Linked DNA regions of Homo sapiens. The protein of the gene in region 1 purifies or fractionates together with the protein of each later gene. This does not show direct contact. Each region holds a gene or a part of one and is shown on either strand. Other genes may lie near its edges. The genes, in order: GSX2 and KLHL8.

What was found.
Region 2: the proteins of GSX2 (region 1) and KLHL8 purify together in Homo sapiens (affinity purification with mass spectrometry; one large-scale study listed by BioGRID and IntAct). This does not show direct contact.

What each region holds. Positions count from the first base shown.
Region 1 is NC_000004.12:54,098,644-54,103,083, reverse strand, and holds GSX2 (GS homeobox 2), read right to left. Parts: upstream 2,922-4,440; 5' UTR 2,740-2,921; coding exon 2,166-2,739; intron 1,503-2,165; coding exon 1,162-1,502; 3' UTR 586-1,161; downstream 1-585. UniProt on the Homo sapiens protein: Transcription factor that binds 5'-CNAATTAG-3' DNA sequence and regulates the expression of numerous genes including genes important for brain development.
Region 2 is NC_000004.12:87,171,982-87,175,796, forward strand, and holds part of KLHL8 (kelch-like protein 8), read right to left. Parts: intron 1-3,815. UniProt on the Homo sapiens protein: Substrate-specific adapter of a BCR (BTB-CUL3-RBX1) E3 ubiquitin ligase complex required for The BCR(KLHL8) ubiquitin ligase complex mediates ubiquitination and degradation of RAPSN.

The DNA.
Region 1 (4,440 bases):
ATCTTTGAACAGAATACTTCCTGTCCCTGACTTTTTGTTTTCTTAACATTGAGGGAAACCCGCTAATTCTGCTTGTAGCATCGTTATTAAGTTTCCACTGTTTGCTTCTGACCTGTTTGATGGATTGTTGCTCTTCCTAAAACTATTCTGACTCTACAAATTCCTTCACATAATTCAAGTTTTCGTACTGAGAGAAATGAGGAAGTAGAAAGAAGAAAACAAAAACTAGATGGGGGATTTTTACCCTTCCTTGCTAAATAAAGGTTTACCTGTCGTTAATGGTCAGTGTCATTCCAAATGGAGTGATTTGTCCTATCAACTGTGAGGAGGTTGCCTATTTTAAGGATGGAGAGGCACTGCCTGGTAGATGCCATCATGACTAAAGGTGTCTCCTTGGCGAAAGTTCTGTTACATAGAAAACCCATTGAGCCACAAACTCCCTCAGTCAAGAGACCCACATTACCAAGTTCTTACTCAACATTTTCCTCGAATTCCTCAGACAGCTTTTTCCTGCATATGCCTTTCTCTAGACATTGGAGGAGGGGGCAGGAGAAGATAGGGAGAGCAAACACCACAGATTTAAAATTCTGGTTTTTGTTTCATTTATTTAAATAAATATAAATATAAATTTTATATAAACCTATTCACATACAAAGGGACTTCCAGCGACTTAGATTTTAAATTCTCCCCAGGCGAAATTTCAGAAAGCAAGACCTACAAGGTCTAATTTTCTAAATTATTTTCAACTTGGGTGTTTTTGTTTGAAAACGACAACAGAAAATAATCAATAAATCCTGTGTTCTTATCGAGTTCTGAAAGAGAGTAGGGATGGGGAACTGACATGTGCTTTCAAAAACCCCATACAGTGTTAAACTTAAACCAACCCTGTTTTTCCTCTGTTATACGACAAGAATGAGTTGAATTATAGGTTATTTACATTTTTTAAAAAAATCTGTAACTTCAAGTTGGAGTCCTAGATAAACAGGTCAAGAAGGAGACGCGAAGGGTCAGGTCCCGGCTTGTCCATTCCAGAACTTCCAGGTTCGTTTCTTCTCCAGATGGGACCACTGCAATGAGCAAGGATTCTGGCCCCTGGGTGCCCCACGCCTTGGCGTTGCCTGGTCTGCCAGGAGCGGGGGATGTGAGGGAGGAGGCCCTCCCTCATAAGGGGGAAATCTCCTTGTCATCGTTGGCTGAGGCCGGCGACAGGGAGTCCTCATCCTCGGAGCGCGCGTAGTGCACCTGGCTCCCGACGCACTTGCAGCCCGCGTGACTGTTCCTCTGCGTGCCCTTCCCCTCCTTCTTGTGCTTCACTCGGCGGTTCTGAAACCAGATTTTCACCTGCTTCTCCGACAGGTTCAGGTAAGTGGCGATTTCAATCCTCCGGAGTCGAGACAGGTACATGTTGGAAGAGAATTCTCTCTCCAGCTCCAGGAGTTGCGTGCTAGTGAACGCCGTCCTCATCCTCTTGCCATTGGGTACCTGGCTGGCGTCAGAGCCTCCTGCGGACCGGCGAAGAGAGGGTAGAGAGGTAAGGCTCGGGCAAGGTGCTCCCACCCCATGTGCTAACCAGGACGCATTTCAGGGACCCACCCGGGGAAGCCCAGCCGAACATCTGTATCCCTTTCCCATTTCAAGGCACGTGGTTGCTTAGCGGGGAAGAAAAGAGACGTGCAAAGCAAATAAAGGTCTTCGATGCGCAGGATGCGAAGTCACAGGATTAAAGAGGGATGGGGGCTTGCACTATCTGATCGCCTCCCTTTGAGCCAAGCGGAGAAGCGCGCAGGCTTAGCCAAAAACGTCAAGACGCTTTAGCCGCCCCGACGCGGGGATGCCACACAGGTTCAAACACACCCACCCCAAATCCCAAGCAGTTAACCTCTGGTTTATCCGCCGTGACGTTCGAGGTCCCTAAGGCCCCAGTATTAATAAGGCAATACTCGAGCACCTACTACTAGGAGTAAAACGCACCAGGCTGAGTGGAGAAGCTGGCAAACTAACTTCCACTTTCGTGGAACTTCTGTGGCTGACTCTACGGTTACACTAAAAGCCCGTCCTCTCTCTTCACCCTGTCCCCGGGCTCCCACTTCCTCCACTGGAGGTGGAAAGTTTGCTCCAGGAGCGCGAAAGGCGCGGAGCGCAGGTGCCCCAAGACCCCGCCCTACCCATGGTGAGGCAGTGGAATCTCCGCGGGTCCGCCACGTTGTAGGTGGTGGCGGTGCAGACAGGTGCGTGGTGCTGCGGGTGCCCCAAGGCCGCCGCGGCCGCCGCCGCCGCTGCTGCTGCTGCCGCCGCCGCGGCCGAGCCAGGCTGCTGGGGCTGATGATGGTGATGGTGGTGCTGCGGCGGGTGGTGGTGATGATGCGCATGGTTCACCCGCGGGCAAAACTGCGCGTCCCCAGGAGCCGAAGAGAACTGGCCCTTAAGCAGAGGCAGTGCCCCTGCGGCCCCTGCCACCCCACTGCCTCCGGCCCCGGTAACCCCGGCCCCTGCGCCCCCGCTGCCGGCGCCCACAGACCCCCGAGAGGAGTGCAGGTGCGAAGTGACGCAGAGAGGGCACACGCAGAACGCGCCGCTCTTGCGGGACGGGCAGCCGGGGCCGGACACGGACATCACCAATGGGGGCGGCATGCCAAGCGGGATGAAGAAATCCGGCCCGGGGTGCGGTTCAGGCAGCGAGGGCGCAGGCCGTGAGGTGTCCTTGATGATGAGCGAGTCGACATAGAAGGAGCGCGACATGTCGAGAGGGGTGGGTGGCTGGAAGCCCCGGCAGTTCGCGGCGACCCCTCTCCTCTAGTGTTCTAAGCTCTGCCCTGGGAGCCGCGCAGACACGGGCAGTCAAGCCCTTGGGGACGCAGAGGTGTTGGCGTCTGGGCTGGGAACAAAGGGGTCCCCGGAGAGGGCTGGTCCTCACGTCCCCCGCCCGGCGCCCCGGCTCGGGTATTTTATAGCCCCCCACCCTGGCACGTGATGCTGCGGAGTACCGCTCGGCTCAGGCTCCTCGGCAGCTCCGCACCCTCGGGATAGGCTGCCCGAGTCACAACAGAAGCCGCGAGGAGGGGCGGGCGCGCGGCGGGGAAGAACTCGGGGGAGGGGGATGGGGGAGACTTTGCAAAGTGTAGGTTTTGTTAATTTCCCGGGGAGGCCGGCCTCCTCCCCCTCTTTCTCCACGCTTTACTGAGAAATCACAGCGCTGCATCCTCCATCCCACCCCCTCTCGCTACCCTGGCCGCAGCCCAACTCTTCCCCACGCCCCACCGCAAAGCGTACCAGGTGGGGACTTGGAGGCTTATTTAATAGGAATGCTCAGTGTTTCCAGCTCCTCTGTGGTAGGGGTGGCTGCGGCGCGGTGAAGTGTGAGGCCTGCGGTTTGGAGCAGGATTGTGCGGGCGACGGACTGGCAGTCGTCCAGTCCCTGAGCGCAGCTCTGGCCACGGTTACACCTACCCCTGTCCACAGCTTTTGGACTTGGCAGAGGTCATTCAGGTGGTTAGTTCAGGACTGTCCGGCGCAGAACTGTGAGGCCTCCCAGCTAAGAAACCGTCAAGCTTTTCATGCTGATGTTCGACAAGGTCTGAAGTGTCTTTGTACTTGGGGCCCTCCTGGGGCCACTCAGACCAACGACCCTTCCTTGTTTCCCTTTCTGATCGGCACCTCCCACTTCCGCAGAGAGAGAGAGATGTTGAAGAGTCACCCTTTTCTTTCTCCAAGTAGTAACACCATGGCATTCCAGGGCAATCCTACAAACTCCATCCTGAAGATTTTGGAGGGAGGACCTCAAACACCAAGCCCTCCTAAAGACGCAGCAGGGATTAGATAGACCTTCGCTCTGGGTCTGAGGATTTCCTGTCCCTCATTTTTACCAATCATGGGCAGCTTAGCAAGGCTAACCAGGAAGCACTCTTTCCTCTGCATCTTAAGAACCTAAAAAGGATGAAGAGGATTCAGCCATCCAGGGAATCTTGCCTCTGATTGGCAGAAGTGGCTTTGTAAGGGAACTCTCTCTGGTCCATGGAAGTCTTGCACACCCCTTACTGCCCGAGAGAGGGTGGCTGCCAAACTATTGGGACTATTTATCTTCGGAGAAGGCAAGGCAGCAGAGGTGGCCATTTTCTCTCTTCATTTCCCCCTGCAGAAAAGCGGGCTGGGGCCATGTGGTTGGGCAATAGTTAGAAGTCTGATCCTTTTTCCAGAGCAGCTAACTTCAATCCTGAGTTCATGATGGTGCTAAGAAACTTAGAGACAGGACTCCCTCCACCTGAGAGAACAAGGTGCCCAAATCCAGGAGAGCACTAGCTAGAGGCACGGCTCTATCTTTCCATCCTCTGTCTTCCCCTCTCCATCTCTGTGACAGTCTCTCTTGCCTGCTAGAGAAGTGTAATTGGGTTGTAGGGATGCCCGGCTCTGGGGAGCCCAGGATTTATGGATGGCAATTAAAGT
Region 2 (3,815 bases), about 33 Mb from region 1:
ACCTCGCTGTGGTAGGCAGAATTTTAAGATACTCCTCATCCCCCATGACCTTCATCCCCTGGTGTTACTCTCATGACTATGCTACATTATATGGCAAAAGGGAGGTGACCTTGGCGGGCCTAATCTAATCAAACAAACCTTCAAAAGCAGAGAGGTTTCTCCAGCTGATTGTCAGAAATTCAAAAAACCAAGTGAATGCAGTGTGCCATTGCTTGTTTGAAGGTGGGGGGGAACATGTGGGAAGGATCTGGCAGTGACTTGTAGCCAACAGCCAATAAAAATGAGAAACAGTCCTATAGCCACAAGGAACTGAATTCTATCAATAACCTAAATGGCCCTGGAAGTGGCTTCTTCCCCAGTGCCTCCAGACAAAAGCCTAGCCCAATCTCTTGATTCTGGCCTTGTGGGACCCTAAGTAGAAAGCCTAGCAAAACCTGCATGACTTTTGAACTGTGAGCTAATAAATGGGTGCTATTTTAAGCTGCTAAATTGGGGGCAATTTGTTACATGGACATAGAAAATTAATACAACCCCATCACAAAACAAACAAAAATTTTATCCCATTCACCATGTTGTTTTCCTAATTCAGAAATCATACCATTATCCATCCAGTTGCTTAAGGCAGAAACCGAAGAATCATCTTTGCCTCTACCTAACTGTTCTTTCTAATTATCATAAAGTGTTTTTGACCATACACCTCTGAACTATCTTTCAAATATGTCCTCTTTTCTCTATCTCAATTTCTATCAGTATAGTCTAAGCCACCATTATTTCTTTACATCAAGGGATGAAGAATTACAATAACCCTTTTTGGTCTGTCAGACTGTTTTCACTCTGGTCATCCTCAAATCCCTTCTCCATTTTGAATGCAGAAGTTCTCTGAAAAGAGAAATCTGATCCTACAATTCCCCTATTATTTAAATAAAAATATAAAATGTATATTTACTATACATGCATATTAAATATATATGTTTAATTCAAAGCCCATCAGATAAAATATCCTTGGCAAACTTGAAAGGCCTTCAACCTTTACTTACTCTTTCTGCCTCATTTCTAGACACTCTTCCCCTTAATCTTCCAACTACATTGGACCACTTTCATGCTCTTTGCTCTCTTTCATCGCCTGGTTTTTGAAGGCTCTTCATCTCCCTCCACTTACCACTCTTACCCCACCTATAATAACTTAATCAGGCTAAATTCTGCAGTTCCTTCAGATCATAATAAATGGGACTTCATTAAGATGTTCTCCACTCCTCAAGCACCCTTTACTCACCCCATGCTAATATTATTGCCCTTATGTCATTATTTGTTATCTTCTCTTCTACAATGTAAGCTATACAGAGGCAGAGACACTGGCTATGTTTTCTACTGCTGGTAGCAAAAAACAAAGTTGTATCTTTACCACTTGGTGTGTCTTGTGGTGGGCATTTAAAACTTTTTTTTGAATAAATAAGTGAACCTTTAGACATGCTGTCAGGATGATGGGTTTCAACAGACTCATAGCTTAAACAAACATCGGTGTCCATTTCAGTGGAAAGATGAAATAAAAAAATAAAGATAACCAGATATTTCACATGTGAAAATGTATTGAAATGCCAAAAAGATGATTTGGGGCTATATAAGTTATAAACAAATAATATGACAAAATAATTGTAGCTCTATTATTTTTCACACAGATTGTAAATGCTCGGGGCATATTTTAAAAGATTAAAGAAATTCAATTGCTATTTTGCTAGAGAAGTTTCATTCAATCTTTGGCTAAAAACCAACATAGTAACAGGGATATAAAGATTAAAAAAGTACTTTGGGATTTTATCTCCCATTTTAATCCATGCAGTTATCACATAGTGTAAATCACTCCCTATTAAAGTATTAAAATGTCATTTGTAGACAGTGGGAGATAACAGTTTAAGACTAGCTTTTTTTTTTTCTAGGATTCTTTTTCATGAGGGGAAAAAAAGCTTAAAATGTCTTCACATTTTTTTTTAATCTTTCATATTTTAACACAAGAAGCAAAAACCAGTTGAAAATATTATTAATCAAAAATAGAAAATTAGAGGCAACATATCCCCATGTGTGGTTTAGTTTTTAATTGCTCATTTTGATAACAAGTCATTTTTGCAGAATGGTGCTAATTTGCCAACCATATAAGCCACAATGTCTCAGGTATGGTTTTACTAGTTCAGGTTTGTTTCTTTTAATTAAACTGTGGGTGATACATTTATATATATTAAGGTCAGTATCATTATATATCATATATATGTGTGTATGTGTGTGTGTATATATATATATCACCTGCAAGTTTTTTTTTTTTGAGACGGAATTTTGCTCTTGTCATCCAGACTGGAGTGCAATGGCGCAATCTCGGCTCACTGCAACCTCCACTTCCTGGGTTCAAGCGATTCTCATGCCTTAGCCTCCGCAGCAGCTGGGATTACAGGCACCCGCCACCACGCCCAGCTAATTTTTGTATTTTTAGTAGAGACGGTGTTTTGCCATGTTGGCCAGGCTGGTCTCAAACTCCTGACCTCAGGTGATCCGCCCATCTTGGCCTCCCAAAGTGCTGGGATTACAGGCATGAGCCACCATGCCCGGCCCACCTGCAGTTTTATTAAAAGAAACTCTTCAGCAATATTTTCAATATTTACTAAGATAGCCCTCTTCTCTCTTCTCGCATTATATTTTCACTCTGACACAGAGACAGAATTATTCTAGTATCTAGTTTTATACAAATTATTAAGCTCAGTCTTTGAAATCCTCACGCTATTAACAGAACAATAAAGTTGAAAAAAAATAGGCAATAAAATTTAATCTCCCATTTGGTGCAAAATATATGTGATCTTTCTGACAATACAATTCCAATCACTAGGAGGAATTACAGTATGCTTCATTGCTACTATACTGAATCATAAACAAATATTTATTCCTTCCTACTAAATCAACATACACTCTTAAAATATCTAGTAACTCCTGTAAGTTTTCTTGTCTCCAGATCACAACGCTTCAACTATTTTTTGTAGATAACATGGTTTTCAGTTGTATTACTAACCTGCTAGTTTTTTCTTACATGCATTCCAGATTATCATTCTCACATTTATTACAATCCATTTTTGTGCATTTTCTATAGATCTTATTTTCAAATTATAAACATGTTACTGTACTAACAAGTTATGTTCATTATAAAACATCCACCCAAAATAAATTTTTAAAAATGTACAGAGAGTCTAATCTTTTATTCCCATACCCCAACTGGTGTTATATACCCTACTTCAACAATACATCTATAGATACGGAGAGATCAGTGTCAAGAACAATACAACTATAACTCCCTTAATCTAAGGCTTCACTTCTTTTAATGTAGGCAACTGTATTATATTCACTTTTTTCCTTTCCTTTTTTTTAAGAGCTGTGTTTCATAATGGTTCAGGTACTTTTCTCCATATGAAACAATCAAAAACCTGATTTCCCACCATGTTATGTTGTACTCGTGGGATTGAGTTTTTAAAATACCTAAGGCAGGTTTTAACCTATAACTCTAATTTTAACATTTTTTAGGTTTTTGTCTAGAGTATATGTGGTCTACTCCGTCTTTGGAATCCTGATTTGGTCACATGCCTTAGTGATCTTTCCACCTTAGGATATCTAAAAAGCTGGTATTCAAGTCATTAATGAAAGTGTCAAACAGGTTAGAGTACTAAGTATGTTACTAAAAATCTTCCCTTTAGACTGATACATTAATCAGCATATATTCCAGTTTATGTTGATGAGAATATAAATATTAGAACATAAATATGTAAATGAGAACATAAATATGT